Linked DNA regions of Homo sapiens. The protein of the gene in region 6 purifies or fractionates together with the protein of the main gene of each other region. This does not show direct contact. Each region holds a gene or a part of one and is shown on either strand. Other genes may lie near its edges.

The links.
Region 1: the proteins of SIRT2 (region 6) and GART purify together in Homo sapiens (affinity purification with mass spectrometry; one large-scale study listed by BioGRID and IntAct). This does not show direct contact.
Region 2: the proteins of SIRT2 (region 6) and RUNX3 purify together in Homo sapiens (affinity purification with western blotting; one study listed by BioGRID). This does not show direct contact.
Region 3: the proteins of SIRT2 (region 6) and CDC14B purify together in Homo sapiens (co-immunoprecipitation; one study listed by IntAct). This does not show direct contact.
Region 4: the proteins of SIRT2 (region 6) and CDC27 purify together in Homo sapiens (co-immunoprecipitation; one study listed by IntAct). This does not show direct contact.
Region 5: the proteins of SIRT2 (region 6) and KRT2 purify together in Homo sapiens (affinity purification with mass spectrometry, with the first as the bait; one study listed by BioGRID). This does not show direct contact.
Region 7: the proteins of SIRT2 (region 6) and RAB3GAP2 purify together in Homo sapiens (affinity purification with mass spectrometry; 3 studies listed by BioGRID and IntAct, with this or other methods). This does not show direct contact.

What each region holds. Positions count from the first base shown.
Region 1 is NC_000021.9:33,518,118-33,521,617, forward strand, and holds part of GART (trifunctional purine biosynthetic protein adenosine-3), read right to left. Parts: intron 2,899-3,500; coding exon 2,789-2,898; intron 2,446-2,788; coding exon 2,247-2,445; intron 1-2,246. UniProt on the Homo sapiens protein: Trifunctional enzyme that catalyzes three distinct reactions as part of the 'de novo' inosine monophosphate biosynthetic pathway.
Region 2 is NC_000001.11:24,913,277-24,916,776, reverse strand, and holds part of RUNX3 (runt-related transcription factor 3), read left to right. Parts: intron 1-3,500. UniProt on the Homo sapiens protein: Forms the heterodimeric complex core-binding factor (CBF) with CBFB.
Region 3 is NC_000009.12:96,536,344-96,539,843, forward strand, and holds part of CDC14B (dual specificity protein phosphatase CDC14B), read right to left. Parts: intron 2,798-3,500; coding exon 2,735-2,797; intron 706-2,734; exon of another isoform or gene 603-705; intron 1-602.
Region 4 is NC_000017.11:47,182,796-47,186,295, reverse strand, and holds part of CDC27 (cell division cycle protein 27 homolog), read left to right. Parts: intron 1-3,500. UniProt on the Homo sapiens protein: Component of the anaphase promoting complex/cyclosome (APC/C), a cell cycle-regulated E3 ubiquitin ligase that controls progression through mitosis and the G1 phase of the cell cycle.
Region 5 is NC_000012.12:52,646,635-52,649,211, forward strand, and holds part of KRT2 (keratin, type II cytoskeletal 2 epidermal), read right to left. Parts: intron 2,469-2,577; coding exon 2,373-2,468; intron 1,704-2,372; coding exon 1,539-1,703; intron 1,222-1,538; coding exon 1,096-1,221; intron 327-1,095; coding exon 106-326; intron 1-105.
Region 6 is NC_000019.10:38,893,119-38,896,618, reverse strand, and holds part of SIRT2 (NAD-dependent protein deacetylase sirtuin-2), read left to right. Parts: intron 1-2,463; exon of another isoform or gene 2,464-2,751; coding exon 2,752-2,800; intron 2,801-3,091; coding exon 3,092-3,205; intron 3,206-3,500. UniProt on the Homo sapiens protein: NAD-dependent protein deacetylase, which deacetylates internal lysines on histone and alpha-tubulin as well as many other proteins such as key transcription factors.
Region 7 is NC_000001.11:220,147,793-220,150,453, reverse strand, and holds the end of RAB3GAP2 (rab3 GTPase-activating protein non-catalytic subunit), read left to right. Parts: 3' UTR 1-2,161; downstream 2,162-2,661. UniProt on the Homo sapiens protein: Regulatory subunit of the Rab3 GTPase-activating (Rab3GAP) complex composed of RAB3GAP1 and RAB3GAP2, which has GTPase-activating protein (GAP) activity towards various Rab3 subfamily members (RAB3A, RAB3B, RAB3C and RAB3D), RAB5A and RAB43, and guanine nucleotide exchange factor (GEF) activity towards RAB18.

The DNA.
Region 1 (3,500 bases), on a different chromosome or scaffold from region 6:
GGTGGTTGAAAGGCAATTTTTGTTTGTTTCAAACTTTATTCCCAGGCTTCTTTAGCTTAATTAGCTACAAAGAATAAATTGTGGGCTGGGCATCGTGGCTCACGCCTGTAATCCCAGCACTTTGGGAGGCCGAGGCAGGTGGATCAGGTCAGGAGTTCGAGACTATCCCGGCCAACATGGCGAAACTCTGTCTCTACTAAAAACACAAAAATTAACCAGGTGTGGTGGCTTATGCCTGTAATCCCAGCTACTTGGGAGGATGAGGCAGGAGAATTGCTTGAACCTGGGAGGTGGGGGTTGCAGCGAGCCGAGATTGTGCCACTGCACTCCAGCCTGGGTCACAGAGCAAGACTCCATCTCAAAAAGAAAAAAAAAAAAGAAGAAATTGTGTATAAGCAAAAACTGAAAAGAGCTGCAGTGTCCAACAGGAATGGGGCTTAAAATATTAGAGATCTAAATTTTATCAGATCCATAAACAATTTCAGAAAGCAGTCATAATGTAAAATAGCAGCTCCTAGTTACTTCATATTTTTTCTTCTTCAGAAGTTGACTCAATTCAGTTTGCCTCATTCTTAATAGCCTCATCAAAACTCCTTACAAGATCTAGAACTTCATCACCATCCCCTCCATTAGCAAGCAGTGCTTTTCCATCCACAGACTATTTGGGCAGAGCTTCAGTCGGTCTCCTTAAACTAGTCAGATTGTCTGCACCAAGCTGGTTTAAGATGCTGGTAGCATTTCTATCAGCTGCGTTGTCTCAGCATGGCCTGTAATGGTGAAAGTGTTCACTGCCCCAGAGAAATGCTACCAGCATTTTAGGTTGTTAAAGTGGATCTCTGGTCTTCATTTGTAAACATACTCACCCCTTCAATACCAGAGATATTGTTTACCCTTAACTTCTTAAGGAGAACTGAAGTTTTTATCATCTGCTGTAGCTGAACCACCTTCTTTCTGTTTCTTTTCCATCATTACGCAATTGTGCCTGCAATTTGGTTGTTTCTTTCATCTTGTCAGCGTGGAAAAGGGTCATGTGGAGGACTAGGGTTGGTGCTCAAGGGGTCCTGGGTAGACCAGCTGAGATTAGATGCACACATGTGCAGATGCAAGATGGCACAATTTCTGGTTTAAATGGTCATATAAAAGAGGCAGTTTCTGGCCGGGCACGGTGGCTCATGCCTGTAATCCCAGCACTTTGGGAGGCCGAGGCAGGCAGATCACGAGATCAGGAGATTGAGACCATCCTGGCTAACACGGTGAAACCCCATCTCTACTGAAAAATAGAAAAAATTAGCCGGGTGTGGTGGCGGGCACCTGTAGTCCCAGCTACTCGGGAGGCTGAGGCAGGAGAATGGTGTGAACCCAGGAGGCAGAGCTTGCAGTGAGCCAAGATTGCGCCACTGCACTCCAGACTGCGTGACAGAGCAAGACTCTGTTTAAAAAAAAAAAAAAAAAAAGAGGCAGTGTCTTTGGGAGGCTGTGATGGGAAGATAGCTTGAGCCCAGCAATTCAAGACCAGCCTGGGCAACATGGCAAAACCCTATCTCTACAAAAAGTACAAAAATTAGCTGGGTTGGTGACACATGCCTGTAGTTCCCAACTACTTGGGAGGCTGAAGCAGGAGGATCCCTTGAACCCAGGAGGTCAAGGCTGCAGTGAGCTGTGATTGAACCACTGCACTCCAACCTGGGTGACAGAGAGAGATTCCCTTTTTTTTTTTTTTAAATTAAAAAAAGAGGTTATTTTGTTCCTTGATCAACCTACAGATTCATTTTGCTCAAACATTTCATGTATAAAGATACTTCTATAAAACTTGGGCGTATATTATTATTTATGTCACTCTATGGGAAAATTTGGCTTTAGTTAAGATCCGGAATGCCAGGAACCCATCTGCCTGTACCGTGGGGTCAATAAGGAGGAAATAACTCCTAGACCTGTTTGTTGAGGAGGCTACTGAGACTGATGGGGATGTTAAAAGGTGGCCAAAAATTGGGAAGAAAGATAAGGCCTGCCTGACAGTTTGGGAGTACGGGTCTAGAGGACAAACCCCTGAGGAGGGCTTTGAAGGTAGCAGGCTCTAAATTTAATTCAGGTAGTTTTACCTATATTTCATTTGTGCATATCACATATATGCATCTTGTGATATACAGTCTCTCTTGCTAGCTACATTGGCACTGATCACATTTTTACATAGGGCTAAAACACAAAAAGAAGAATGACATGTTATTGATTAAAATGGCTGATCATACCAAGGAGAGCACATCCAGCTTTTCCACAAGCTTTAGCAATTCCAGCAACAACAGCTTCAGTTACACTGAGGTCAAGTTTTCCACAGGAAAAGTAATCAAGGAAGAAGAGGGGCTCTGCTCCTTGTGCCAGAATATCATTAACACACATTGCTACCAAATCTTGACCAATGGTATCATGTTTATTGCATAGCTGGGCAATCTATGTAAGAACAATATAAACATCCACATTAGGGAATAAGTTCAAAATTGTATCTTATCCATTTGATTAGCTGCTCTTAACACCTAAAAACAAAAGAACACGAAATTCTGACAAGCTACTTGGTCTAAAAGCATCCCCTTTTATCCTCTAAAGTACCCTTCCATCCAAATATAATCTAAATAATAATTTGTTATTAGAAATGTGCAGATATTTTAGCCATTTTACATGGTTATTTGGCATGGTCCTTTTTAGCTCATATATGTCAAGAGAAGAAAAATACATATTTGATATAAATTTCCTCATCTTTCCTAAAAGGCCTTTATTCACAAAGGTGTCTGATTACCTTTAGTTTAGTTCCAACGCCATCTGTTCCAGAGGCCAGAAGGGGATCTTTGAAACCAGCTGCTTTTAAATCAAAAAGACCAGCAAAACCTCCAAGATCAACTTTACAGCCTGTTGGAGAGGAAATTAATTACTTGCTACATTTTAATAGATTAAACATGTAATTATTTAAATGTCTACTAGTTTAAAAAAACCAGTATATTTAGCGGCCTGTGAGATGTACTTCTGGAAGAAATAGATGATTGGAACAGCTGTTCTCAGAGATGACATAATCAAATCAACTGGGAGAATGTAATCATTTAATAGATTAACATGTAACATGTTAATAGGTTAAACATGTATATACATACCACTTGTTCATAAGAATGGCTGAAACAAGAGATGCCCTTCCTGAGTATGAGAGATTGCACCATGTGCTCAAAGAATTGATTAAGAAAGTAATTAAGGCTGGGCGTGGTGGCTCACCCCTGTAATCCCAGCACTTTGGGAGGCCGAGGCGGGTGGATCACAAGGTCAGGAGATCGAGACCATCCTGGTTAACACAGTGAAACCCCGTCTCTACTAAAAATACAAAAAAATTAGCTGGGCGTGGTGGCGGGCACCTGTAGTCCCAGCTACTCGGGAGGCTGAGGCAGGAGAATGGCGTGAATGCAGGAGGCAGAGCTTGCAGCTAGCCGAAATGGCACCACTGCACTCCAGCCTGGGCGACAGAG
Region 2 (3,500 bases), on a different chromosome or scaffold from region 6:
TTTATTTACAGAACAGAGCAGAGATGGAGTCGGGGGGCAGTCTACTAGGTCCCCCATCCTTAGGACCTGCCTGTTCCTGTCCCTGGCATATCCTGGCCCTGAGATCAGGTCCCCCCCCATACCCTGGGTTGCAGCCCCACTCCTTTGTCTTTGGCCCTGGACAAATCCTTGGCCTTTCGGGTCCTCAGCGTCCCCATCTGTAAGAGTGAAGGGACCAGCTCAGCGGCTCCTGGTCACTGAGCAACCCCCTCCCTTGCGTCAGGCCCTGTGCAAAGTCCCCAGTAACTGATCTCTTGGGCAACCCCAGGAGAGGATAGAGGCCAGGGCGCAAAACCTTTTGCCCAAGGTGACTGTCAGCACACCCTGGGGGCTCCGACCCGGGGGCTGCGGGAAGTGAGGGCCACTTGGAAGGGCCTTTTCACCTCAGTGTGCTCAGCTGTCAAATGGATGGTATTGGTGTCTGCCTAGGGGAGTCGCTGTGAAGGTTGACTGAGTTTACCGGGGCCTGGCCCCAGGAAGTGCCCCCACAACCTTCACAGGTTGTTACAGGCCTTTTGTGCTCCTGGACTTCCTTTCCCGGCTTTTTTCCTGTTTTGCCACCTCCGACCCTCTGAAATCTGAGCCCGCTGTGGGGTGAAGTGGGAGTAGGGGCTGGTCCTGGGAGCCAAGGACTGGGAATCTGTAGATCCCTGAGGCCGGCTGTGGGTTCTGTGGCCGGGTCGTTCCCCTCTGGTGCCCTGCAGAGCGTGCCCGGCCTGCAGCCAGGTGGCCAGCTGGGTTTGAAGGCTGGCTTGGTGGCTTCCTGCCTGTGTGGCCTCGGTTTCTGAGGTTCTCAGTGCTGGTGTCCCTCAGAGTCACTGGGGGCTGGTTAAGAAGCAGGTTGCTGAGCCAGGTCCAGGATCCCAGCAGGAGGGGCGGTGACACCTGGCAAGTCTGGCATGGACCACGGTGGGGGAAAGGCCCTCACGCCCCCCTAGCCTGTGCCCGTTACCCCCTGCCCTCCCTCCCACATCCTGCTCTGGCCACCCTGGTATCCTGGCTGGTCTTTGAACTTGCCAGGGACACTCCTGCCTCGGGGGCCTTTGCACTGCTCTTTTTTCTATCTGGAACACTCCTCCCCGGACACCCCCAGATGCATGGCACACTCCTTCACACCCTAAAGCCTCTGCACTTCTCAGCAGCCCGCCTGTTTCAAGTGGCACACACACAGCCTTCCTCACCTCTCCCCCTTTTCCTTCCTGGCTTTAAGGTTACCCCGAGCACTTACCACTACCACCTTCTAAGGTGCTATCTAGTCCGATAGTTTGTTTCATTTGTTATTCATTTCTCCCATTTTGTTTTGTTTTGTTTTTTGAGATGGAGTCTTGCTCTGTTGCCCAGGCTGGAGTGCAGTGGCAAGATCTCGGCTCACAGCAACCTCCGCCTCCCAGGTTCAGGAGATTCTCTTGCCTCAGCCTCCCTAGGAGCTGGGATTACAGGCACACGCCACCACACCCAGCTAATTTTTGTATTTTTAATAGAGACAGGGTTTCACCATGTTGGCCAGGCTAGTCTTGAACTCCCGACCTCAAGTGATCCGCCCACCTCAGCCTCCCAAAGTGCTGGGACTACAGGCGTGAGCCACCGCACCCGGCCCCCTGTTGTTTATGCTCTACAAGGGCAGAGTTCTTTGCTCTGGTTTGCCAGGCCCTGGTATAGCTAGACCCTGAGAATGTGGGCAGGAGCCCTTCACAGCTGCTCCATAAATCGTTGATGAATAAGCAAATGATTCATTAATGTCATTTCGGGTAGTAGGAAGTCCTATGAAGAAAAACAAAGCTGGGAGAAGGAGTGGAGCGTGCAAGGGATGGAACAAGGGATGGGGCGGGGAGGCCTCCTGAAGAGGTGACCTTTGAGCAGGGGCCTGAAGTGAGCAGCCAGCAGAGTGTGGCTGCCGAGGGTTTGGCGTGGGCAGGAGAAGTGACCCTGAGCCCGCAGTTGGGCCTTTGAAGGCCTTAGAGTTTCTGTAGTTTCTTCCTGGGCTGAGGAGAGGCAGCTGCTCCAGGTCCCTGGCTCCCAAGATCCCCACAACCCCCAGGAGTGTCTCCTGCGCTAGGGGCAGGGCTAGCGGAGTCTGCCCAGCAGGAGGGAAGGGGTTAACCACAGACCTCCTGGGTTCTCCTAATCAACCCCAGGCCTCTGGAAGCCCCACTTGCAGCCCTGGGAGGGAACCGCTCGCCTCCCTGCCCGCTGGCCCCCGGCCAGCCCGTTTCCCTGCCCAGCCACCGACCCGGCTTTCATCTGCTCACAGGGGGCCGATTCACAGCAGACCACCCCAGGCCCGGCACCCGCCTGCGATTCCGCGAGGCTGTTAAGAGTCGGGTGTAAATCTCCTGACAGGCCGCAGAGCCGGCCTCGGGCCCGGCGCCCCACCCTGCTGCTGGGTAGACAGTGGCTGCTGTGTCTGGGTCACAGCCGCACCAGGCGGCCAAGAAGGCTGCCGAGTGGCTTCAGATGGGTGACGGGCCTGGTCATTGGAGCCCACACTGTCCCCAGCAGACGATGCTGTTCCTGTGGCCCTGCCCGACTCTGCTTTTCCCAAGAGGCTGAACACTGAGCTGGCCTCTTGCCAGCTGGACCTTACGGCCAGGTGACCCAGCTCTTCTCTCATGGAGGTCTTGGGAAGCGATGACCTTAGCAGCTGAGCTCCATGTGTGACCTTTCCAGGTTTGAATCTCAGGGGTGCCACACACCGTGTGACCTTGACCGTGTGCCTCCACTTTTCCATCTGTAAAACGGGGGTGATAGTCACAGCCTGTCAGAGGGATATGACCCTTGGAGACGACATGCATGGCCCCCCTTGCACAGTGCCCGGCACATCATGGATGCCTGCTAAAATGGTTGCCACTCCTATGACAGGGGCTTGTGTTGGGCCTGCATGGAGGCAAGGGGGTAACCCTGATGGTCTCTTGGTTCCCCCAGAAGCATCAGGTACCTGGCGGGGGTAGGACCCCAGGCTGGCCAGGCTGGTGGTGGGGAAGGATTCCCTGGGGACAGTGGTAAAGGAGCTGCCAACCCAGAATCCAGCCCTGGTCCTCTAGCTCCCACACTGCGTGACCCTGGTGAGTCCCCAGACTGGCTGGGGCCCAGCATTCCTGCTCCCACTTTGGCCTTTATCATATGCCTGTGAGGTGGGTCACCCCCACTGCACAGACGCATCAGAGAGGAGCTGTTTGCCTAGGAGCAGATGGCCAAGTCAGAATGGGAACCCAGAACACCTTCCTCAAAGGCCAAGGCCTGGTGGGCTGTGTAATTCTTGAAACCTTTCCTGACCCTCGGGGGTTAGAGGTGTGATCCCCATTTTGCAGATAAGACAGCTGAGGCCCAGAAGGCAAGAGTGGCTTGCCCAAGACAGTGACCACTGGTGGGTGAGAGCTGCCTGGTATGAGCTTGGGGCCACTGGGCCCTTGGGAGGGGCAGGCTGGGATCTGCCCTCCCATAAGTGAGGGTCATAGACACTA
Region 3 (3,500 bases), on a different chromosome or scaffold from region 6:
TCACTACAAAAGGAACAAATACCAACTAGTGTTTTTAGCAGTTTTGCTTACATAGACAAAGTAACTTGTTTCAAATGTTTAATGTTTTAAGGACAAGCGCAAAAAAGGTGTTAATAACTTAGCTATATTCTGTAAGTTTAAGGTGCTAGTTAAATGTACGTTGTACTTTAGAAATGGACTGCTATCAGAGAAGTAAAGACAGGGTTGGCCCTAATGAATCCTACAATGTATTCTTACATCTTTGGTACATCACAGAAACAACTGAGTGTCATTATTAACTGAAATTGAAAAAACAGTTCAGTTAAACGTAAGAGTTTGAAATAATATTTACTTTGGACGTTGTGAAAAAGAATTCTCTGAGGATTCAAGATGCTGCCACATGAAGTGCTGCTGTTTGAGGAATCATCTCCCCAGTGCTGGGGAGCAAGTCTGCTCAAGGTAACTACAGCAGGGTAAGAAGACAGGAGGCTACAACTACTCTGGGCTGAAAAGGGCTTTAGCACAGTATCTTACTCATTCCCTATTTGGAGGATAAAGCTGTAGAATCAAATTATTTATTCTTTTTAAAATATATATACTATGTTAAAAAACATAGAACACACCTGTGGTTTTGCCTGGCTTATCTCTCCCTGGCCCTGTCCTATGTTTTTAAGAAATTTTGTGTGGTTGGGTGCCGTGGCTTACATCTGTAATCCCAGCACTTTGGGAGACTGAGGCAGGTAGATCCCTTGAGTGCAGGAGTTTGTGACCAGGCTGGGAAACATGGCGAAATCCCATCTCTACAAAAAAATTACAAAATTAGCTGGGCATGGTGGCACGTGCCTGTAGTCCCCGTTACTGGGAGGCTGAGGTGGGAGGATCACTTGAACCTGGGAGAGAGAATGCAGTGAGCCAAGATCGCACCACTGCACTCCAGCCTGGGCAGCAGAGTGAGACCCTGTCTCTAAAAAAGAAAGAAAGAAAAATAAAATAAAATAAAACTGTTAGAAAATAAATTTTTTTTTGGTCCGGCTGGTTTGATGGGGCTGACCCTATGCCCCAGGCTCCTGGGATGGCCAGAGAACTAAGGCTGGCCAGAGTATTCCTTAGCCCTGCCCTGCCAAAGAACACAGGCTGGTGCAGAGATGGGCACATGACGTAAGTCAGGCCAGTGAGAGGCATTCCTGGGCCTTCTGATGGAGCTAAGATTACACTTTTCTGATCATTTTGCCAAACTGGCAGGTCAAAGTTGCTGGTGGCCATCTTTATCACTACTGGAGAAGGCTGGCCTGAGAATAAAACTAACTTCAAGTCCAATTTCTGATTAAGTGTCTGAGCACCTGAAGGGGCATGCTAGAAGCCAATCCTATTCCTGGACTTTTAATTTATGTAATCCAGTAAATTTTTCCCTTTTTTTTGAGACAGAATCTTGCTCTGTCACCCAGGCTGGAGTGCAGTGGGGTGATCTTGGCTCACGGCAACCTCTGCCTCCCGGGTTCAAGTGATTCTCCTGCCTCAGCCTCCTGAGTAGCTGGGACTACAGGCGCCCACCACCACGCCTGGCTAACTTTTTGTATTTTAGAGATGAGGTTTCACCATGTTGCCCAGGCTGATCTCAAACTCCTGAGCTCAGGCAATCTGCCCCTCTAGGCCTCCCAAAGTGCTAGGATTACAGGCATGAGCCACTGCGCCTGGCAGATTTTTCCTTTTTTATTTAAGCTATTTGTGTTTACTTTCTGTAACTTGCAACCAGAAGTGTCCTGACAAACCGAAGGTTATGGCAAAAACAAAGATATTTTCCAGAGATAATTAGGTGTATAATGACTATTCATCTCATCTTATTCTATGCTAAGGGTTTTAAAAGCATCTCAATCACTGTGTGACAGCCATCAATACTAAAATACATTTAAACTAAACAGTATAAAGAACACACGGGGCACACTCATTCACTCTAGAATTGTGCATCAAATGCAGAAATTCCCACTGAGAATTGGGACAGGAGAAATAGGGATAAGAAGATGAAGACTTGACTTTTTTTCACTCTATACACGTCTAAAACAAAACAAGAATATTGCTTCTGTAAGTGAAATGGGTGATTAAGAAAGCTAAAAACAGGGCCGTGCACAGTGGCACACATCTGTGATCCTAGCACTTTGGGAGGCCAAGGTGGGAGAAGTGCTTGAGGCCAGGAGTTCAACTCTAGCCTGGGCAACAAAGTGAAACCCCATCTCTACAAAAATAAAAATTAAAAAATTAGCCTGGCATGGTGGTACATACCTGTGATTCCAGCTACTTGGGAGGCTGAAGAGAGAGGATCATTTAATCCCAGAAGTTCAAGGCTGCAGTGAGCCATGTATACCACTGCACTTCAGCCTAGGTAACAGAGCGAGACTTGGTCTCTCTCTTTTTTTTTCAATTTAAAAAAAGAAAAATTAAAAACAGGCAGAGAAATTTTGGTCAGAGTACAAACCATCAGAGGATAAGTAAATTCTGGAGATCTAATGTGTGTACTGTATGCTTGAAATCTGCTAGAGTACATCTCAGGTATTCTCATCACACACGCCAAAAGACTAAATTATGTGAGGTGATGAATATGTTAATTAGCTTGATTAGGTAATCATTTCATGGTGTATACATATATCAAAACATTACTTTGTACATCTTAAGTATATATAAGTTTTATTTGTCAATTATTCCCCTCAATAAAGCTGGGCGGGGGGAGGAAGAGTTGAAAACATGATCCTTGAAGACTTACTTCATAGTGTTCATATTCATCAAGGTTAAATGAGTTGAAATTAAGGAAGCCATACTGCATTGCCTAAAATCCAAAAGAAAGCTTTTAAGAACAAGGATGCAAATAAGAAAACAGTTTCCTATCCAATTTCAGAATACTAAATATCAGGGGCCCCCCAAGAAAGTATTGTCATGATCAGATTACTTTCCACTGAACAGCTTTCAAAGGAAGTGGGCGGCGTCTTCTAAGTGCTTCTTTTATATGGAAATTAATTATAACTATATGTAATAAGTTTGTTGTGTTTTGTTTGGATTTTGTTTGTGAGATGTGCTTTTTTATTTTCATTCACCAGTCATCCTATCCATGTATTGTTAAATAATCACGCCCTGAAAGTAATCCTCTTCTCTTACCAGATCACTACCACCCCTGGCTGAAAATTCAGAAGTTTAGGATTCAAATATAATGCACAACCCAATGGTCTCTACATCGATAAGAAAGAGGAGAGAATCCATGTGCTAGTTTATCCCAAACAAAACCCTCATACTTCATCCATATCTTCATTTTCAAATTCTTCCGAACAGTCTTTAATCAATGTTCCCTAAAGTAAACAGCTCTGACATCAACACTAAAATCAAAACTTTTGAGGAAAAAAAAGATATTCTTTCCATAGGAATAAAACAAAAAAAATTTCTGTCCTATCCTATAGCCTTACTCTGTGTGATAGCAGGCAGAGTATGATAACCAAAATAAGCAGAGTGTCTATTTTCTGAGACAAGGACAAACAGAC
Region 4 (3,500 bases), on a different chromosome or scaffold from region 6:
ATCTAACATGGATTCAAAGAGTAACATATTTTGGCTACTCAATGAGAAATTTAGATTTAATGTGCATTGGTAATGAATAACCATTATATGAGCAGAAGAGTTTTTGAGCAGAGGAATTATGTAATAAAAGCACCACTTTGGGAATATTTATCTGGTGCTGTTGGAAAGGGAGGAAGAGACAAGAGTTAGACATACAGACTAGTAGAATAATCCAACTGCATGATCATGTAGACCAGGGCTGCTTAATCTGAGCACTATTGACATTTGGGGCAAGCTAATACTTTGTTGGAAGCTGTGCATTGTAGAATGTTTTGTAGCATCCCTGGCTTCTAACCACTGGATGACCCCTCCATTTGTGACAACCAAAAATACCCTCTAGACATTGCTAAATGTTGGGGCATTAATTGGGAGTAAGAAGGCAAAATTGCCCAGAGTAAGAACCACTGACGTGCATCTAAACTAAATCAGTATCCTAGAAATTCAATTATAATGTATAATATGAAATTTCAACAGTGATTTTTTTCTTTGTATCTTCTTACATTGTCTGAAGCCTTTATTATCCATTTATTTTATGGTTTTTAAAAAAGGGCAGCTGACTGGGCACAGTGGCTCACGCTTGTAATCCCAGCACTTTCAGAGGCTGAGGCAGACAGATCACTTGAGCCAAGGAGTTCAAGACCAACAAATAAAATAAAATAAAGACAGCTTTTTTGACAAAAACAAGAACACAAAATGTATAAAAAATTTAACAAAAACAAGTAAACAAATTTTTTGTAATAAGCTTTCTCTAACAAAAAATTTATAATGATTACAGGCCGGGCGCGGTGCCTCACGCCTGTAATCCCAGCACTTTGGGGGGCTGAGGCAGGCGGATCACGAGGTCAGGAGATCGAGACCATCCTGGCCAACAGGGTGAAACCATTCCTTCTCTACTAAAAATACAAAAAAAATTAGCCGGGCATGGTGGCAGGCACCTGTAGTCCCAGCTACTCAGGAGGCTGAGGCAGGAGAATGGCGTGAACCCAGGAGGTGGAGCTTGCAGTGAGCCGAGATCGCGCCACTGCACTCCAGCCTGGGTGACAGAGTGAGACTCTGTCTCAAAAAAAAAGAGAAAAATTTATAGTGATTACATTTAAGTCTAAGTACAACTTATAGAGGTTTGTTTATATTTTAAATAATATTTTATATTTAAGAATAGCTAGCTGGTAAGGAATTTTGCAACTTTAAGCTGTTGGTTTATTTATCTTTTAAATTAGTGCACCTGGGGACTAACCCATTAATCAGTCAGATTTCTCTTAAACATTTTTTAGGGGAGAGGGAGAGGAGCGTTGTTCTTTTTGGCTTCATAACTTTCTTTTAGCAGCATTTCGTTCATCTGGCTTTAATTTGTAGAACTCTAGCGGTAATGCACTGGGTGTTCTTTTAAGGGAAGGCCCACACCATCAGTTGGGCAGAGGTGCTGATTTTAGCCCTGTTCATCATCAGCTACTAATCTGTAGTGCCTTAGAGAATAATCTGTTCTTCCCCCCAATCCCGGCACAAGAGACACTGTTAGTCAGGAACTTAGAATTGATTGAGCAAAGCGGGATGGAAGCAGTATGTGAGATTCTCGAGATGGCAAGTTTTTTCTGATGCTCTTAAGAACTGGTGATAAGGGAATGATGTTCTGAGCAAAGCTTGATTTTAAGTCAGAAATGGATACAACTCTTGAATATGATACCTTTTTTCCTTCTTTTTTCCCCCCGCCCTTGCCTCTTATTTCTTTAATTTTAAAAGGACAGAAAAAATTTCAAAGCTCTAGGACTTTTTGACTTTAGTATATGTGTGTGAAATTTTCCTAGTGGTCCATAGTAGTAAAATAGCTGGTAAATCATTTGAGTCTTTTGTGGCTTATATATTGCAAAATAAGCAGTTGTAGCAGGTATGCTGGGGAGATGTTATGCAACAGAAACTACATATTTATTGAATTTCTTTATATTAAGAGATTGGCAAGGAAAAGGTTTTCCAAGTGCTTAATGTATGATAGTATACTAGGAGCATTATAAATGGATCATTTCATTTAATCCACAAAACAACTCCAATAAATAAACTCCATTTATCAGATGAAGAGATTGAGGCTGAGAAAAGTTGAGTATTTCCCACAAAGTCCCACTACTGGAAGTGCTGGCACACAAATTTGAGCACGTCTCCAAACATCAAATCTTTGGTATCTTCATTCTACTCACCATTTTCTTTCACTTACAGCAAAATTAAACATGTAGGTTCTTAGGAAATCCCAGATTTCATAAAGGAGTAATTTGGTGGTAATTATTTGCATAATAAAATAATTCTTCTATTTATCACAGAGTTTCTTTCAATAGAGACTCCCAGAGATTCTTTATTATTAGATATACATCTAGGAATACAAAGAAACTTAATGCTAAGACTAACGTACAAGAGTGTCAACAGTGGAAGACTGCTAGAAATTAAAGATCATTTGCTTATTCATTCAACATATAAGCACCTGCTTTAAAAGCACATAATGGATACTGGGAGTATAATAATGAGCAAAAACAGACGTAGCCCCTACCTTGTGGAGTTTGTAATATAGTAAGGAAAACATCACTCAAATACTCTCCTAAATTAATACAGAATTATAGCAGTGGGAAGTATTACAAAGGAAAGGTACTTGGTGCAATTAGAGTGTATAATAATGGTGCCTAATCTCATCTTTTTCCTTGTATCTAGATAGGAATGGTAAAATTAGACATCTTTGAGACTTTATAAAATTTAAGCTATATAAACAAAGGTTAAACAAGAGGCTCTGGAGATCCCAAACTAAGTTCATTACTGTTCTTTCTTGAGGAAATAGAAAGGGCTAAGTCATTTACTACTTTTATTTTTAAAATTATAATTAATATACTCATTGCAGAATTATTAAACATTTACTTGTTTGTTCAACAAAATTTGTTGAGCCTTTACTGTATCTAAGGCATATTAATCACTTAATATAATTTAGATGTACTGGTACAATGTTAGCTAGTGATCAGTAACCAGATTTTACTGGTTTCCGTTGTAACCTTTTTAAATCATTCAACAAATTATAAGCTGGTGTATGTGCTAAAAATAAAAAATAACGCTTGTATCATGATCAGGTGTGAGATATCTCAAAAGTAGTTTATTACTAAAAATGATTTGACATTACCTAGTAAAGATGAACATATGCATATTCAACAACCCAGTAATTTTATTCCTAAATATATATCCTAATTTGGAGAGATTCTTTTTTGTGTTTTTTTGATGGGAGTCTTGCTCCTATTGCACTCCAGCAGCTATTCACAGGTATGATCATAGCCTTGAACTCCTGGACTCAAGCAGTCTTCCCAGCTCAGCCTTCTGAGTCGCTGGGACTAAAGGCTCACACCACCGTGATAGGCTGGAGAGATTCTTAAATATATACCCCAGGAGATGAATCTAAGACTGTTGCAGCATTGTTATAATTGGAAAAACAAAACAAAACA
Region 5 (2,577 bases), on a different chromosome or scaffold from region 6:
GGGCCTGCCCCATTCTCTGCTTTCCCTGTCTTTGCCTCCAGCCCTGGCTCTGGGAGAGATGAGAGGAAGGGCCAGGGTCCCCTTCTCCCTTCCCAGTGCCCTCACCTGCACTCCTCGCCCTCCAGCAGTTTGCGGTAGGTGGCGATCTCCACATCTAGGGCCAGCTTCACGTTCATCAGCTCCTGGTAGTCACGCAGCAGCCGCGCCAAGTCCTCCTTGGCCTGCTGCAGGGCCTCCTCCAGGTCATTCAACTTGTTCCTGGCATCCTTGAGGGCATGCTCCCCACGCTGCTCGGCATCTGCGATGGCATCTTGCACATTCTTACACTATGACAGAAGGACAGAGAATGGATTCTGCCTGACGGAGGCGGACAGAGAGCAGAGGTGTTCGAAGTGCAGGAAGCCAGAACCACTGGCCCTGGGAGTGTTAGGTCCCCTCTGGAGTTTAGTCGCAAACAACTGTGCTAAGACTTGCCGCTGTCTCTGGCACATCTTCTTCCCATGTCACCGTTGATGACACCCTTTGGCTTTCCCCATAGTGCCCTTTGATCCTCACATCACAGGGCCTGAATCATGATCCCATTTTACAGATGGAAATGAAAACATTTGAAATGGTCTGCTTGGCAAAGCTTCTGCTGCTGATGGAATCCACTCTCTGCCTCTACCTTTTCTATTCCAAAGCTAACGTCCAGCCCCAGGCCAGCTGCCCTCAATACTCACTGCCCCTCTATGAAACCAGTCGGCTGGTGCTCAGGGCCTGTGCTGAGCACAAACGGGAAGCTCCATCGGCAATCTGCAGCAAATCAATCAAACTAACGTTTGCTCTATTTGTTATGACTCCCTTTTCCTCATATAAACAAGTGAGCACAATTCTTTCCCTTCGATAATCCTTACTTTGGAATGTCTATTAGAGCACTCTAAGAATTGTTATAATAAGCCATAAATTATGTTAAGCTGGGGAATTTGGGATCGATACATGCTAGAGTGCAATATCTCAGTGTCTCTCATCTCTCACATGCACACTCACACACAACCACACTCTCACGCACACCCAGAGACAACCTCCCGCCCCTCGCTGGACAGGGCTGGGCCTCACCTGCTTCTTCACATGTGCGATCTCCCCCTGCAGCCTCTGGATCACGCGGTTCAGCTCGCTGATCTCTATCTTGATCTCTTTCAGGCTGTCTCCATGTCTCCCGACAGTCACCTGGAGCTCCTCATACTGATATGGGGAGAAGAGGACAGTTTGCAAGGAAGTTCCAGCCTGGCTCACATTCCAGACTGACTGGAGTGAAGGAGAGCTGGTTACTGGTCCAGGGAGGGTCAACCCAGCTAAATGTCATGGCTGCATTCATGAGAGGTAGGGACTGTCTCACATGCCCAAAAGGACTTGGTGCCATTCTCAACATCCTTTCTTGGGAATGGTGCCCAACTACCATTAAACAAAAAACCAATAACCTTACTGTACACTTTCCAGCTGGGGGTGCAACCCAGCTCATGGCAGGGAGCTGTGGCTCTTCCTACATTCCCTCTACTTGCCTTGCTGTGGTACAGGGCCTCCGCTTCTTCCTTGCTCCTCTGGGCGATCTCCTCATACTGGGCCTTGACCTCGGCGATGATGCTATCCAAGTCCAGGTTGCGGCTGTTGTCCATGGAGAGGATGACGTTGGTGTCAGTGACACTCTGATGTATCTGGGATATCTCCTACAACACACAGGAAGGTCTGGTCATGACATCCTGCCATAGCTACAGGCAGACAGGAGGCCTCTGTCTCCCAGCATAAGGGAAACGCAGACCCTCAGACTAAGCATACACTAGGTGGGATGAAAATCATGTAACCGTCTACTCCTGGGCCTCTCCCAAGGTTGTCCTGAGAATTGTAGTGAGAGGCACCTGTATTTCTGAGCCTCCTAGTTAACATTCAGCACTTAAGCCAGTTATGGTAAGTGCCCCCAGACAGAAGCTTGTCCATGGCAAATACCTTAAATGGACTTCCTGTTTCAGAAATCATCTGTGCACCCTTGGGTTGGGGAGGGGGATAGGAGACAAATGCATTTTGACCTCTGAAGTACAGTAGGCACAGGAATGGGCACAGGGCTTGTCTCTTCCCCAGGGGAAATGGACATCTGGGGAATGGAGGGAGGGGAAGCTGTCCTGGTGTTTCCTGAACCTTATTCCCATAACATCGGAGGAGAAAATTCCTCACCCACAAGACCTATGCTATGAAAGCCCCCCCAGTGGCCTGGAATGATGGCAGATTGAAGTCAGCTGGTCCATAAACCCCACTTCTGCCACTTTTTCACCAAGCAGAAAGGACTTTCATTTGGTGAGAAGGGTGGGAAGTAAGGGACTGTCCCGGAGCAGCCTCCTTACCGCATCATAGAGAACTTTCAGAAACTCAATTTCCTGGTTCAGCAGGTCCACCTTGGACTGCAACTCCACCTTTATCATGTAGGCATTGTCCACGTCCTGCAAGAAAGGTTGAGGCCTCTGGTGTATGGTTCCCTGTACAGGCCTCTTCCTCTCTCTGCCACTCCCCTCTACTCAGTCCCTGCTGGCTCCTCTCTAAAATCCCAGG
Region 6 (3,500 bases):
GGGCAAAACTGGAAACAGTCCAAATGGCTGTCAGTGGATGGGTTAAATGAACTATGGTTCATCCATACAATCCAATACTATGTAGCTGCTCTGAAAAACGAGGTGAGGCCGGGCACGGTGGCTCACACCTGTAATCCCAGCACTTTGGGAGGCAGGGGGATCACTTGAGCCCAGGAGTTTTGAGACCAGCCTGGGCAACATAGCAAGATGCCGTCTCTTTTTTAAAAAATTATTTTTTAAATTAGGTGGGTCTGTAGCATATTGTTCTGCCGAAAACTCAAGATGTTGTATTGTACTATGACCTATTTCTGTAAAAAATATTAGTTTTATGCAGAGAAAACTGGAGTAATTTCCATTAAGCTTAGCTAACAGTGGTTATCTTTATAAGGGTGGGCTTGGGCAATTACAAGGTGAGTGCCGCAAGTTATATGTTGTTGAAGTATACATGAGTATAATCAAGGTTTTTGCAGAGGTTGTCCAATCTCTCTTTCTCTCTGTCTCTCTCTCTCTCTCATTCTCACTCTCTCTTTCTCTCTCTCTTTTTTTTTGAGACGGAGTCTCGCTCTGTCACCCAGGCTGGAGTGCAGTGGGGTGATCTCGCTGACTGCAACCTCCACCTCCCAGGTTCAAGCGATTCTCCTGCCTCAGCCTCCTGAATAGCTGGGACTACAGACACGTGCCACCATGCCTGGCTAATTTTTTGTATTTTTATTAGACACGGGGTTTCATCATGTTGGCCAGGATGGTCTCGATCTCCTGACCTCGTGATCCACCCACCTCAGCCTCCCAAAGTGTTGGGATTACAGGCGTGAGCCACCGTGCTCAGCCTTTCTCTCTCTTTTTAAATAGAGACAGAGTCTCACTGTGTTGCCCAGGCTGGTCTTGAACTCCTGGCATCAAGCAACCTTCCTGCCTCAGCCTCCCAAAGTGGTGGGATTACAGGCATGAGCCACCACGCCCAGCCGGAGTTGCACAGTCTTAAAAAGCAATTTTTTAAATTGTCGTATGTTCGGAAGGGAGGGTCTTATTCAAAAAGACTTGGACGCAGAGCAGTGAGTATCCGGGGAAGGGAGTTGTCTGAGGTGGTGGCTTGGTCAGAACTGCATTTTGGTGAAATCCATTGCAGGGCCCAGCCGTGGTCCAGCCTGAAGCAGGCATTCATTCCAAGGTAGAGGAGCTCCTGGAGCTCCTGCCAGGAGCCAGACCCTGTTCTCAGTGCTGGGCACCCAGACAAAGTCCCTGCCCTTGTGGACATCCTGGCAATTCCATAGATGTCTGGGAAGACTGCAGAAGCCAGAGAGAAGGGCCTTTGAAGTGGAGAGGGGCGAGCTGACCCAGACAGCCTCACATGCAGGGCAGCAGGGTGGATGGGAGGTGGAGACTGAGGCTGGGAGGCTGGGGGAGGAGGCTGGGGCAGGACCCCCGGAGGAGAGGACAGGCTGGACCAGGTGGAGCGCCGGGGAGGGAAAGGGGGTTGGTGGACAGACCCTTAGGAGGCTCAGCGTACATGCTCTGGAGCTGAAGGGCTGTGGCAGGAGGGCGAGGAGGGAGGCGGGGGCAGGAAACATCTGGCTGATGGGGGGGACAGTACGATCGCATTGAGATGAGGCCTGGGAGGAGGATGGGCTTGGAGGAGATGCCAGGGTCCATTTGGGACATAGTAGGAGTGAGAGGCTGGGGGGCACCTAGGGCAAGGTGTCCAGGAAGCCAGGGAACCCCGGATCTGAGGGCAGAGAGATGGTATCATGAGTGACGAGGCAGAGGTCATTGGCATGGATGAGACAGGTAACCCCAGGAAAGTGGAAAGAGAAAGCAGAGAGGCCCTGGACAGAGTCCCAGAGACCTGCCAGTCTGGAGCTGGGCTGAGGGGAGGCTTCGAGGAAGGAGACAGAGGTTGCTGGAGAGGTGGGCAGAGTGTCTGAGGCCTCGAGCAGGGGGCACATAGGTCCTTGAAGTGAGGGCCAAGGCTTTGCATTGGAATCATTCCCAGAGTGACTTGGGACATTATTCAGAGGCCCCCAGGGCTGCTGGGAAGGGACAGCAGGCCCACGCTCCAGGGGACCCGGGAACGAAGGGAAGACCCCAGGCTGTGATAATAACAGCAACAGCCAGCGCTTACCAAGCACTTCCCCCGCCCCTGGTGCTGCGCCCAGCACCCAAGCTCCCTTTCCAAGGTGAGGGACACCAAGACTTAGAAAATCAAAGTCACGACCAGGCACAGTGGCTCACGCCTGTAATCCCAGCACTTTGGGAGGCCGAGGCAGGAGACTTGCTTGAGCCCAGGAGTTCAAGACCACCCTGGGCAACAGAGGAAGACCTCGTCTCTACAAAGCAAACAAACAAACAAACAAAAAATGAGCCTGGCATGGTGGCACGTGCCTGTGGTCCCAGCTACTTGGGAGGCTGAGGTGGGAGGATCCCTTGAGCTTGGGAGGTTGAGGCTGCAGCAAGCTGTGACTGCACCAGTGCACTCCAGCCTGGGCAACAGAGCGAGACACTGTCTCAAAAAAGAAAAGCAAAGCAAAGCCACTCACATGAGGTCTTGCTCCTGGGGACGGGCATGGCCAGGACTCCAACCCCGGCAGCCTGTCCCAGAGCCCTGGAGCTAGCCCCAGTGCAGTCTCTCCACCACCCCGCACTTCCTCAGGCCACCTTCCTGCCACAGCCTTTTCCCCAAACCTGGTATCACCCCCTCTCCTCCCTCCCTAATCCCACCTCTCGGGCCTGGCCACTCCACCCCACCCCTTCCAGGACTCAGATTCAGACTCTGAGGGAGGAGCCGCTGGTGGAGAAGCAGACAGTGAGTATCTTCCTGGAGGGACAGGGAGCAGGGTTCTGGGGGGCGGGGGGATTTCAGGGCAGGGGTGTGGGTGATACCTCCTCAACTCCATCAGGAGTGACATCCAAAGTATGTAGCAGTGGGTTGGGTACCAGTGCCAGAGCAGGCTCCTGGAGGCCGCTGGCTGGGCCGGGCCTTGTGCCTTTAGATGTGGGGAGGCCGGGAACCCCAGGGCTGGGGCCAGGGTGCCGGAGACATCCATGCCCCTGGCTGAATGCCCGTCCTGCCGCTGTCTCTCTTCTTTCCGGTCAGTGGACTTCCTGCGGAACTTATTCTCCCAGACGCTCAGCCTGGGCAGCCAGAAGGAGCGTCTGCTGGACGAGCTGACCTTGGAAGGGGTGGCCCGGTACATGCAGAGCGAACGCTGTGAGTCCCCTGTCAGGATTGGGCCACTTTGCCTGGCTCCTGGCCCCAAGTGACCTCCCATCCCCAGCCACTTGAACCATTTATTGAAACCTTTTCTTTATAAGTAGCAAGAAACCCAGCTGGAACTGGCTTAAGCCAAAAAGGAGTGTGTTGGCTCTAATCCAGCTTGAAGCACGGCTGGGTCCAGGTGCTTCCACTTTGTTAAAAATCATAACTCTCTCTGATGCTGCTTTTCTTGTTTTGGGGTAAAGGTAACTCCTGGCAGCTGCAAATGCAGGTTCCACTAGCCTAGGAG
Region 7 (2,661 bases), on a different chromosome or scaffold from region 6:
AAGGCAAAGATACTAAAAATTTTAAGTCCGACTTTATTTTTCCTACAAGTGTTTAGAAATGCTTCTGGGATTTGCTAATATTATCTGTCCTTGGGAACAGTATTGAAAAAACTGCTTAGTGGTATTACAGCTTTAGCAAACCTACCTCACAGCTGGGATGAGAGGATAAAATACAACTAATTTTGTACCCTATAGTGCCTAGAGCAGTCCAAGTGCTAAATAAATATTTACTGATTAAAACCAAACTATAGCTACTCGGGAGGCTGGAGGAGGATCGCTTGAGCCCAGGAGTTTGAGGCCATTCTGGGCAATATAGCAAGACCCTGTCTCGAAAAAAAAAAAAAAAAGAAAAAACCAAACTAACCAAAACTCTGTAAAAGAGTGCTTTGAGCTCTACAAATACCAAGTATTTATTGTGGTATATTTTTAGAATGTAGCCATACAGTGTAATTATGGGTATCTGTCATGGATCACAATTATTATTCATAGTAAGTCATTGTGATACAGAAGTTTGTTTCTTCACTTCCCCTTAAGAAGCCAACTATAGTAATCATGCAAAGTTGAGGAGTATGTCCTTCAGGGATATAAAAAGAAAAACAAATCTGTTTTTTGAGCTAAAAGAGCACATCCAAACAAGAATTTAACTGGCTAAAATTTAGTAATTACTGTTAAGTAACTATCAAACTTGAAATCTTACAAGATAAATGGTTAAGATGTCTTGAGTATTTGGGATGGGGGCCTGTGAGTCTGATTGAGACATACATTTTACAGAGTAGCAGCACTGGAAAGGGCTAGTCCAACCTCCCAGCCTCTGCTTGGGTCTCCGCTGCCCCAGCCACACACATCCTAGAATTCTTGTAAACATATCTGGCTCTGTGTTAACAGTCACTTGTTATATGTTTTCTAAGAGATTAGTTCTTCCTGTGATTTTTCCAAGTACGCTGAAAGTAGTAGTATGAACTTAAGGAGGCTAGTCAAAGAAACTTGGAGTTATAGGTATTTTTAAAGAATAAATCCTCAATTCCATCATCACTTGGCGGGGAGGGGGCACTTATTAAGCATTTTAGATAATAAAACTGGTTAAGCTTACTCTGGTAGAACAGACAATCAAATCTGGGGATTGCTGAGAACAATAATAAGCTGAAGTATGGCTCACAGAATCCTAACACAAATCATTAAGTCTCTAGTTAGATTTGTTATCCTAAAATTTTTCATAGAATTTTAAAATCTAATTCTGACTTGTATGGTTAAGAAAAGCAGTTAAATATTTTACTACTTATCAAGGGCTTTTAAAATAAATAAATCTGATTGATAGGAAGAAAGGCAAATAAATACCTATGTAGACATTCTATAATAACAAAGAGCCATAGATGATAAAGGAATTAGATTTTAATGTAGAATGGGTGGTTTCTGAAACAAAGGTATGTGGTACTTTGTAGTTATTGATGAGAAGCCAGTAACCAGTAGTGTTTTCCTAGATATATGCCCACCCTCACACAACTTTCTTCATTAACAAACATTAAATATGCATTTGTATCTTATTAAATTATATTGTATAATGCTGAAGGAAAACAAAAAGTGTTCAAATAATCATAACTTCTACATTACAGGTTCTGTTTAGATGCAGAACTAGAGGGGCCAGGGTAAATGTAGATAAAGAGATATATAGCACCATGCTTCTTAATGCTTCATACTTTTGCAAACAGAAAAAAAAAGTTTTACTTTTATTATAAAACTTCATCTATGGTCAAAGTAAACACTGTTACATTTAAATTGCTTTTTAAAAACAATTGCGATCTAAAAAGTCAAAAATCTGAAATTTAATAATATGAGACTTACACTGAATATAATGTTCATTTAGAAGTTGCTGTGGTCCACTTCATTTATAAGGAACAAATATTTTTACAGTACACTATAGCAACAGCAAAAGCCCTCTCTCACCCTGATAGGAATGGGTTTGCTGGGTGTCTAGAAGTTAGATTCCTGCTGAATAGAATTAGCCATCCTTAAAAGATTTTAATCCAATACTGAACTGTTTATAAAATGCTTTCTCTATTGTAATGTACTGTAAGTAGTGAAATTCTGTATATACTGCTATTTTCTGTCTGTTCATTGTTGTGAACTTCTTATGTATATTAGTGAAATAAATTTTCAGCTTTCATGTTGTTTCCTAAACATTCATAAGTATAACTAACTATTAAGAGATTTCTTCCTTTCTTGAGTAACAAATTTGGTGATTATATTCTTTCTGATCCAACCCCAAAAACTAGCTATTCTGAAAAGGCTGATGTTCACTAATGGGAAGAATGAAATGACCCTTCACCTCTTAAGGGAAACAGGCCTCCGCCATTCCCTTTCAAAACTATACTTCTTTTACTTGATACTCAAAACTTCTGCACCAAAATCAGTCAGTATTTTTCCAGAATGCCTTTATTTTCAGTATCATAGAATTTAAATACAGAGTCAAAAGATGATTTATAAAATATAAAACATTTTCTGCTTGGCCGTATTTGAAGACAAGCTGAATACATATCTATGTTCTGAATAAGTCCACTATGGATATATATAGGAAGAGATATACATATATCCATCCACAGATACACACACACATATATATTTCTGCATGTATATATACATAATTCTTTCTATAGTTACAGGAAA